Regions from separate parts of the Homo sapiens genome. Here region 2 is linked to region 1. The links come from fine-mapping of genetic effects on gene expression. A gene starts in region 1. The other region holds a variant in brackets. All regions are shown on one strand. Distances are from middle to middle.

Region 1 (5,367 bases):
GGAGAGCAGGAAGGGCCCTCCAAGACCACATGCTACAGCCTCCTACCCCATGCTTTACAGAACGGGAAAGTAAGGCCCAGAGAGGGACAAGGACTGATGCAAAATTATACTAAAGGGTCCTGGGTAAGGCTTGGACCCAAGTTCCTTAGCTCCCAGCTGAGAGCTCTTCCCATGACACCAAGCTCAGTTTCTACTGGTAAAAGCCACATACTATTTACTTTAGAGAAAGTTTACAGAGAGGGTTAGGGTGCCAGGAAGCAGTGACTTGGAAATCAAACGAGGGACAGGGCTGTAGACCTAACTCCCAGAAGCACCAGAGAAAGGCTTTTGCACGGGGCGGGTGGTCACCTTAAGCTATATTCTGATCCTGAGAATTCAAAGTCTGATGATTCTAAGCTGTCAGGATTCTAAATGTCATAGATGTCAAGATCCAGGAACTCCAAGACATCAAGATTTCACGATTTTTAAGACGTCAAGATGCTAGCATGCTAACACCATCACGGTTCTAGAACTTTAAAGGTGTCAAGATTCTAAAGCCTTCTGGATTCTAGAATCCTGTAGATGTCAGCATTCTAAAGTACCATCAGGTTCTTTATTTACTGGATTCATTAGTTCCAGGATTCTATGAGCCTGGTGTTTAGCCTAAAAAATAAAGATAAATTAAAATTGATGGAAATGTCACTGAGGTACCAAAGTTCTCATCTGGGAAATTGTGGCATGTCTGTTGTAAAGAAAGGAGGTAATGATGCAAGTTCTAAAGCAGTCACAGAAGACTAGAGAAGAAAGAAAGACAGTGAGAGGACAGCTTTGCCCCTCATCCTGGCCGAGGTGAGGATGGCTCTGCCTCAAACCCTGGAGTGGGGAACATGTAACCGCACTCAACTTGCCAGAAACCCCTTCACGGTCTGAGCTGGCGTTCCCTTTCATGTCACTGAGTTCAACATCCTCACTTTACAGAAAGAGAAACAGAAGCCTGGAGAGAGGAAGGTGTTTACCATTGGCTGCGATGGCAAATGGCAAGAGCCAAGATTTAAGCCCAGGCCGCCAGCCCCATGCCACCTGGTTATAACTCCTCTCACCAATCTCTGCCGAACACCCAGCCCTCCTGCTTCTGCCTAGCCACCTTCCAATCCTCTGTTCCTTCCAAAAGTGGCCTTATCCACCAGGGAGGGGTGACCCGTGGCAGGTTCAAGACTTACACAGTGTGAGAGTGTGTGTGGGTGACATTTCCTGACCTTGTCCCCATTCTCAGGGTCACCCAACCTCGGGGGTCTCCAGCTTCTCACAGTGTGTGATGAGGGTATGTGGATGGCTCCCTGGATGTCCTGGACAGGGGCTTCTCTGTGAGTCAAGCCTGGGTGTGTGAATGGGTGAGCAGGGTTTGGAGAGGCATTCGCTGAATCCACGTGTGTGCCTACACGCCAAGGTCCCCCATTCTCACTTCCCCACACACATGCACACAGATGTTCCCCTCCAGGGCTCTTTAGAATGCCCTGCCTGACTGAATTCCTCTTCAGGGGCACAGAGGGATAGAGAGAGGGAGGAAGGTAGGATGGGAATGGGAGATCCCGGGATGGAGGCTGTAAGCGTAGAGAGAGGAGGCACAGCAGAAAGACAGGGATGGAGATAGTGGGACAGAGAAGGGGGAAAGAGACAGGTGACAGAAAGGGTTAGAGAAACGAGTGACAGAAAGACAGGGGACAGAGACAAGGGGATGGGGCAGATAGGGGACAGAGAAAAAGGGACAGAAAAACAAGGGTGACAGCGAGACAGAGACAGGGACCAAGAATAGGGGCAGAGAGGGAGGGCAGAAATCCGGGGGAAAGAGAATAGACAGGATGATGGAGGGGACAGAGTGACCCAGGAAAAGGGGACAGAGACCAGGGGACAGAGGTAGGGGACAAAGACAGAATAGATGAGGAACACCGAGGCAAGAAGAGAGGGAGACAGACAGAAGGAGGGACAGGACTTCGAGACTGAGGGATAGAGGACAAGGGTAGGGGGACGAGGAGCCAGACGGGGGGGTTCAGAGACGGGCGGACAGAGGGACGCAGAGACTGGACAGAAGGACAGCGGGACCGGCCTGGGGAGGGCGGACTTGTGTGTGTAGGGGGGTCTCGGGCCCTTTGTCCCCGCCGGGATCCAGCCTGCGCGGGTGGGGGGGCTGCGGCACGGCGGCCGGGCCCCGCGCCCCCTCCCCCGCTCGTCGCTCCCGGCTCCCGGCCCGCGCTGCGCTTTGTCCCGGGGAGGGGGCCCGGCCCGGCCCCGCGCGCATTGTTCGGCCTCTGCGGCCCCGAGGCTGCCGGGCTGTCACCACAGCGCGCCCCCCGCCCCAGCCCGGCCGGCCGACCCCGGCCCCCGACCCTACCTGGCCCCGCCGCGGCCGCCCACAGCAGCAGCAGCGGCCACTGGAAGCGCCGGGCCCGGCCCATGGTGCCGCCGCCGCCGCCGCCGCCGCTCGCTCCCGGCCCGGCACCTGCACCGCCCGCGCCGCCCGCCCCGCCCCCCGCGCCCCGCCCCCTGCCCGCCCGGGGGCGGGGCGCCGAGGCCGGGGCGGGGCCGGGGAGGGGAGGGGGAGACGGAGGAGAGGCCCGGAGACAATCGGGGGGACGGCACGGTGGGGGAACGGTGCGGGGTGCGAAAGCTGGAGAGGAGAGGGGTGAGGAGGGCGGGAAGGGGTGCGCGGGAGGGCGACAGCGGCGTGGGAGCAGGTGGGGGATCTCGGTGAGCGCGGGAAATGGAGGGTGTTGGGTGAGGGTGCTGCGTGCGGGCCCAGGTGCTGCGCGCGAGGGTGCGGAGTTGCTGGCATGCAGGGTGCTTGCGCTGCGCGGAGGGGAGGGTGGCAGGGTGTTGCTGGAGGCTGTGCGAGGGTGGGGGCGCGGGCGTCGTGGGGTGCGGTGTGTGCGAAGGGAGAGCGTGGCCAGCGTGACGGGGGAGCGTAAGGGAGGGAGTGCGACGTGGGAAAGGTGAGTGTGAGAGGCGTGCTGCGGGCAGGTGGGTGTCTGGAGTCTAGCGAGAGGCTGTGAGCTGAGCCACCGGGACAGGGGAGGCTGCAGCTGGAGGTCCGGAGGGTCCGGAGGTCGAGGCAGGTCAAGGATCTCCCAGGGCAGGGCGAGGCTGGGGCTCAGGAGTGGGGTGGGGTCAGTTCCCTCCCTCCCTCTCTCCTGTCCTGACCTGAAAACCCCGTGTTTCCGCGTCATTCTCCGGGAGGGGCCCCCTGAAAGTGAACTAACTGGAAGGAAGCCTGAATCCTGGGTCCCAGGAGGGAGAGGCTCCTGTGAACACCTTCCAAGCCCTGGCGTCCCCTCTCCTCCCTGCTGTCTCCCTGCCCCAGCCTCTCTCCCTCTCTCTGCATGTATTTGCCTCTGCCCTTCCTCTCTCCCCATCTTTGAGGGTGACTCACCCCTCCAGACTTAGGTCCCTTCTCCCTCCTGGGAGTGGGTTTCCCTGAGCCCACTTCTGTGACACCCTGTAGACCTGATGCGGGATCATTACCTATGGGACCCAGAAAGAGTGAGAAACCATGGAAAGAAGGCCTCGACCTCTCTCATGCCCATTTGTCAGGCAAACTGAGGTCCAGAAGTGCCAATTATGAACATCTTTCCTTCCCCCCTCCCCCCTCCCCGCCCAGACGGAGTCTCGCTCTGTTGCCCAGGCTGGAGTGCAGTGGCACGATCTCGACTCACTGCAACCTCTGCCTCCCAGGTTCCAGTGATTCTCCTGCCTCAGCCTCCCGAGTAGCTGAGATTACAGGCGCCCGCCACCATGCCTAGCTAATTTTTATATTTTTAGTAGAGACGGAGTTTTGCCATGCTGGCCAGGCTGGTCTTGAACTCCTTACCTCAGGTGATCCATCTGTCTGGCCTCCCAAAGTGCTGGATTACAGGCGTGAGCCACCATGCCTGGCTGAAAATCCTTACTTTTTATTCCGACTAAAAAATTTTACATCCAGTCCCACAAGGGACTTCAGCTTCACACACCCTTTCTGTCCTCAGTACCCAGCTCCCAGTATCCTTTCTGACCTCAAAACCATAGCTACCATCAACCCTTGTGTCCCAGGACCATGGCTCCCAGTGTCTTCTCTGTCCTCAGGGTCCAAGCTCCCATCAACTCCTGTGTCCTCAGGACCACGGCTCCCAGCATCCTCTCTGTCCTTCAGGTCCAAGCTCCCATCAACCCCTGTGAAGCAGGACCATGGCTCCCAGCATCCTCTCTGTCCTCAGGGTCCAAGCTCCTATCAACTCCTGTGTCCCCAGGACGATGGCTCCAGCAATCCTCTCTGTCCTGAGAGCCCAAGCTTCTAACTGCCCCTGTGTCCCCAGATCCATAGCCCTGAGCAACTTCCTTCTTTTTCAGTCCTCAGCTTCCCAGCTTCTGTAGACTTGGGAAGAGATAGTCTCTAATCCTCTTTCCAGGGCTCACATTCTGTGACTTTTGCTAGATGGGAGAGGAATGTTTGATCTGCCTTTGGAATACTGGTCCAAGGGGTAACTAGTAGTTGCCTTTTCCCGCAGGAGCCAATAGGCCCGCTCACTCTGTGCTCTGACAGATGTCTCCTGCTCCAGCTGAAGGGGAACCTTGGGAGATGTTGGTTTGGTTCTCACCTGTCATCCTTAAGTCCCACCATTCCATGTGAAGACATCACAAGAGTAGTGGTCCTGACGGGCGCGTTGGCTCACACCTGTAATCCCAGCACTTTGGGAGGCCAAGGTGGGCCGATCACTTGAGGTCAGGAGTTTGAGACCAGCCTGACCAACCGGCCAACATGGTGAAACACCATCTTTACCAAAAAAAAAAAAAAAAATTAGCAAGGCGTGGTGGCACGTGCCTGTAATCCCAGCTGGTCGGAAGGCTGAGGCATGAGAATCCCCTGAACTTGGGAGGCAGAGGTTGCAGTGAGCTAAGATCATGCCACTGCACTCCAGCCTGGGTGACAGAATGAGACTCAGTCTAAATAATAATAATAATAATAATAATAATAATAATAATAATAATAAATAGAATAGTGGTCCTGTCCCCATCCTACTTCAGGGTACCCTGTCCATTAGGGATTTAGTGCAAGTGACAGCAAGTGCAACCCAACTGGTTTGAGAGAAAGAGAACTGGTTCACACATAACAAAAAGTCCTTCTATGGCTGGCTTTGGCGAGGTCTGTCAATCTCTGTCCTAAGGATGCATGGCTCCCCTCCTGTAGCAAGATGGCTGGCAGATACCCCTGGGGCCAGATTCATATTTGGGGTGATTAAGATTCTGCAAGAGAGAGACAACCTTTATTTCACACAGCTTTTCAATTGTTGCCTGTCCCTGGTGAGACTCGGAGACCTAGCTCTTGCCTGGTTTCTAAACTTTCAATAACACCGTTTTTGC
Region 2 (5,367 bases), 61 kb after region 1:
GATAACTTGGTATGCAACAAGTTCTTTAAAAAACAGGGGAGGGCCGGACGTGGTGGCTCACACCTGTAATCCCAGCACTTTGGGAGGCCAAGGCGGGCGGATCACGAGGTCAGGAGATCGAGACCATCCTGGCTAACATGGTGAAACCCCATCTCTACTAAAAATACAAAAAATTGGCCGGGCGTGGTGGCAGGTGCCTGTAGCCCCAGCTACTCAGGAGGCTGAGGAAGGAGAATGGCGTGAACCCGGGAGGCGGAGCTTGCAGTGAGCCGAGATGGCGCCACTGCACTCCAGCCTGGGCGACAAAGCGAGATCCCGTCTCAGAAAAAAAAAATAAATAAAATTAAAAAACTGAAAAAAATAAAAGATCTTTGGACTCAAACAGACCTGGGTTTGTGGTGTGGATTCACAATTTATCTGCAGTGTAGTCTTGGACAAGTTTCATAACCTCGTCTCAAAAAAAAAAAAAGAAAAAACAACAACAAAACGGGAATAACAACAGTCGCTAAGTCCTAAGACTGTTGTGAGAATTGAATAAGATAATCCACTAAACTATATCAGTGCTTTCTGAAAGAAATGTAATGTAAGACACGTGTGTAATTTAAAATTTTCTGGGCCAGGTGTGGTAGCTCACACCTGTAATCCCAGCTCTCTAGGAGGCCAGGATCGCTTGAGCCTGGAAGTTTGAGACCAGCCTGGGCAACAGAGGCAGACCCTATCTCTACAAAAAATTTTCAAAATAATTAGCTGGGCCTGGTGCTACGGCCTGCAGTCGCAGCTACTCAGGAGGCTGGGGTGGGAGGATCACCAGAGCCCAGGAGGTCGAGGCTGCAGTGAGCTGTGATTGTGCCACTGCACTCCAGCCTGGGTGACAGAGCGAGACTCTGTCTCATTTTTTTAAAAAAAGTTTTTAAAAAAGGAAACAAACATTGCACACGAGTGAAAACACACCTGTAACATACGTGTAAGGTAGAAAGAGTGACAACGAGAGAGAGACAGCCGTGACCAGCTCCCAGCTCAAAGAAAAGAACATTCCTGATGAGCTTTCACGAAGGACATGGACTCGAGGGGCTCGCGGGCCCTGTGCGTGTGCAAGGCGCGCGCGTGTGCGCTTGGGTGCGCGCGGGGGTGGCCTTCTGCCTGCGCGCGCCCCCACGTCCCCTCCTTGCACCCTGTCTCCGTCTCGGCAGGCGGCCGGAACGTGAACGTACGCGGCTGCGGCTCCCGAGACCTGTGCAGCGCCCTGGACTGGACCCACGGGCTCTCTGTGCTCCCAAGACACTGGCTGTCGAGCCACTGCAGCCCCCACCGCCGCGCCGTCCTAGAGTCCCACTGCCGCTCGGGCGCCGCGCCCGGCCTCCGCCTCTCCCTCCCGGTTCTGGTGGTAGTCCTGGCAACCGCGACGCTGTGCTAAGGAATCCCGCCTGGACCACCCCGCCGCCCGGGAGGCCCCCTCCACCTGCTTGTTCGGCACGTCGCTAGATGGTGCCCTGGCTCCCCTCTGCTGGGGCAATGCGGAGACCTGGAAGCCTCTGGTGAGAAACTCAGGAAGCAGGGATGAGCTTCCTCCCTCAGACTAGCGTTTCCCAAAGCCAGACCTTCTGCTCCAGACTCAGGGCTTACTCAAGGCTAAGTCCTCTTTCCTCACACCAGGGTCCCAAAGGCCATGCCTCCATCAGCCTAGGGTGTGTCTTCCCCGCTCAGACTAAGGCCACTCACCTGCTGCTGAGATCAGGCGTCTGCTCAACTAAGTTGGGGCGGGGCGCTATACCTCCCCCCTCAGATTAGCACCTTCCCCAAGGCCAAACCTCCTCCCTCAGAAGAGGGCTGTTCTTCTTCCTCAAGTTACTAAGCCTCCTTCTTCAAACGAGGGGATACCCAATATCCGGCTGCTCCCAGACACCAGGGATGTGTCTCTTCTCCCACACATTGACAAGCAACTTCTCTTTTGTTCTCCCTGTTTGGGGTCTAGCAAAATCCTGGGCAGCCAAGGCGGGGCTTGAGGATCCGATACACCCTCTTCCAAGGTTTTCAGAGCAGCCTCCTCCACCCCCACCATGGGCCAAGACGGGGCAGGGGGCATGGGTGGGGTGAGGAGCCCCTCTTCTGTGTGGGCCCAATCTCCCAGCTGTAACCAGATCTGAATGAATCACATCTCACAATGCCAAGTGGTTTGAGTTTCCTTTTTCTGAAGTTTTAGCCTCAAAGAGGGCCCTGATGTGGTCCTCTCTCCTCTGAGGCCAGGGGAGGTTAAGTTACTTCAACTGGTGAACCTGGAGGGGACAAACCGACAACAGTGTCTGGCCAGGGTGGGCATAAGACCAAATGCTGCATCTGGAACTGAACTCAGAGGATTGAGCGGAGAAGTGAAACTGGGTTGCTCACCACAGGCAGAATGCCAGGAACCATTTGCTTTCTGCTGAAAGTGGCTGAGCGCAGTGGTTCACGCCTGTAATCCCAGTGCCTGGGGGCTATGACAGTGGGAGGGAGGGCTACCTAAGAAATCACTCCAGGCCATGCACCAGACAGATTAGGCGGCGTGGCTCTAGGGGGCTTGAAAGAGACCGCCCCCGCCAGGCGCAGTGGCTCCCGCCTGTAATCCCAGCACTTTGGGAGGCCGAGGCCGGCAGATTACTTGAGGTCAGGAGTTTGAGACCAGCCTGGCCAATAGGACGAAACCCGTCTCTACTAAAAATACAAAAACTTAGCCGGGCATGGTGGCGAGTGCCTGTGTTCCCAGTCACTCAGGAAGCTGAGGCAGGAGAATCACTTGAACCTGGGAGGCGGA[G/A]GTTGCAGTGAGCTGAGATTGCGTCACTGCACTCCAGCCTGGGCAACAAAGCGAGACTCCGTCTCAAAAACAAAAACTGAAAGTAACAGAAAGCCCAACCGAAAGAATAGAAACAATTCATTTAACATTCATCTAACAAATCTTTATCAGTCACAAGCTATGTATTCTTTTGTAAATGAGACACTGGCGATACAGACAAAATTCTGTGCTCTTATGGAAGTGGTATTTTAGTGGAGGAGACACATAATAAATAAATATCACATATCGTACATCACATATCAGTGAGTACTAGGAAGGAAACAGTGCGGGGAAGGAGAATGGGGAACGCTGCCAAAGAGATATGATCTTATACATGGTGAGTAAGAGCCTCAGTAAGGTGACGTAAGTAAAGACCTAATTGAGGAAGTAAAGACCTACGTGGGGCAAGGGAGAAGGCCATGCAGTTGTCTGAGGTGGGGGAGGAGGACATTCCAGGCAGAGGGAACTGGAAAGGCAAAGGCTCCAAGGCAGATGCAGTAAGAAACAGTTAATGTGGGTCAGACGCAGTGGTTCATGCCTGTAATCACAGTGTGATTTTGGGAGGCTGAGGTAGGAGGATTGCTTGAGGCCAGGAGTTCAAGACCAGCCTGGGCAATATAGCAAGATCCCATCTCTACAAAACATTGAAAAGTTAGCCTAGCATGGTGGTGGACTACAGGTATAGCTGTAGTCCCAGCTGGTCAGGAGATCAAGACCATCCTGGCTAACATGGTGAAACCCCGTCTCTACTAAAAATACAAAAAAAAAAAAATATTAGCCAGGCGTGGTGGTGGGCACCTGTAGTCCCAGCTACTCGGGAGGCTGAGGCAGGAGAATGGCGTGAACCTGGGAGGTGGAGCTTGCAGTGAGCCAAGATCGCGCCACTGCACTCCAGCCTGGGCGACAAAGTGAGACTCCGTCTCAGGAAAAAAAAAAAAATTAAAATAAAAAAATTGAAAAAAAATAAAAGATCTTTAGACTCAAACAGACCTGGGTTTGTGGTGTGGATTCACAATTTATCTGCAGTGTAGTCTTGGACAAGTTTCATAACATCTCTGAGCCTTGTGTTCCCATATTGTAAGGTGTTATTGTAAGGTACATTAAGCACAAGGCTTGGCCCACCCTAAGCTTTCAACCAATTGAAATAGTCATGTCTTCAGGTTGTTAATCATGAGGACTGTGCTATTATTTATCCACATTGTATAGAGGAAGAAACTGAGGCTGAAGGAGGCTAAGAGACTGCTAGTATGAAGAACATTGGGACTGAACACACATCTGTCTGACTCTAGAAGATAAAATTTCCCCCCCTTAAACATTAAGAAAATGTCCAAATATACACAAAAGTAGAGAAAATAGTATAATATCTATGACAGACTGATACCCCAATCTATGATGGGACCAAAATGTGACTGAGCCCAGAGCCCATAGCAGGCGCCCAGGAGATGTTTGCAGCTGGAAGCAGTCATTAAATGACCCTTCAGTATCAATCTCTCAGTGTCCAAAATTATGCACATTTTGCCAAATTATCTCTCTCTTCCTTCCCCCTTCCCTGCCTCCTCCTTTCCTACACCTTCCCCTCTTCCTCCCTCCTCACCTCTCTCTTTTGCTTTTTTTTTTTTGAGATGGAGTCTCTTGCTCTGTTGCCCATGCTGGAGTGCGGTGGCGTGATCTCGGCTCCCTGCAACCTCCGCCACCCAGGTTCCAGCGATTCTCCTGCCTCAGCCTCCAGAGTAGCTGGGATTACAGGCACGCATTACCGTGCCCAGCTGATTTTTGTATTTTTAGTAGAGACGGGGTTTCACCTTGTTGGCTAGGCCTGTCTCGAATTCCTGACCTCAAGTGACCCGCCCGCCTTGGCCTCCCAAAGTGCTGGGATTACAACGTGAGCCACTGCTCCTGGCCTTTCCTTTGCTTTTACCCTCCCTCCTTTGCTCTTTCTCTCTCCCTCCTTCCTTTCTCCCTTCTTTCCTCCTCTCTCTCTTTCTCCCTCCTCTCCTTCATACTTCTTTCTTCCTTTCTCCCTTCTTGCCTTCCTATATTCCCTCCCTCTTCCCTTCTTTCCTTTTTGTGCTGAGACATTTAAAGCAAATCCCAGATATCATATTTCACCCATAAATACTTCCCTGTGCATCAGAGCCCATGCTTTCGACTCTTGTAGGACGGACACATCCTTTCTGGGAGGGAGGATGGAATAAAATAAAGCATACTGAGAGCTTAGCATAACCCACACCCATCCCTGCCTGTTTGCAGAAGGCCTAGAATATCCTAATCCTTCAGGGGAGATCTCCCTTCACCCATGGATCTGTGACATTCTTCTAAATCCTTCATAGAAAGCTCATATCAAAAGTGACTAGTTCACCTGTCTCTACAAAAAAATCAAAAATTAGCCTGGGTGTGGGGGCACACACCAGTGTTCCCAGCTACTCAGGAGGCTGAGGTGGGAGGATCACTTGAGCCTGGGAGGTTGAGGCTGCCGTGAGCTGCGATCGCGCCACTGCACTCCAGCCTGGGCGACAGAGTGAGACCCTGACTCAAAAAAAAAAAAAAGTGACTAGTTGAAT

What was found. PIP is the estimated chance that this variant, and not a neighbour inherited with it, causes the effect.
Region 2: its variant is fine-mapped to the expression of CADM4 in whole blood (TOPMed, PIP above 0.99).

Annotation. Positions count from the first base shown.
Region 1 is chr19:43,637,359-43,642,725 of GRCh38, forward strand. CADM4 (cell adhesion molecule 4) reads right to left here and starts at 2,492. Exons shown (of 9, transcript NM_145296.2): 1 at 2,369-2,492. The coding sequence starts at 2,432. RefSeq lists a silencer at 2,376-2,515.
Region 2 is chr19:43,698,358-43,703,724 of GRCh38, forward strand. It overlaps the pseudogene LOC105372412. Among named protein-coding and RNA genes, the nearest start is that of IRGC, 15 kb to the right of the region's middle. RefSeq lists enhancers at 2,087-2,587, 2,946-2,995, 3,006-3,055, 3,146-3,205. The variant G/A (reference allele first, on the strand shown) is at 2,789.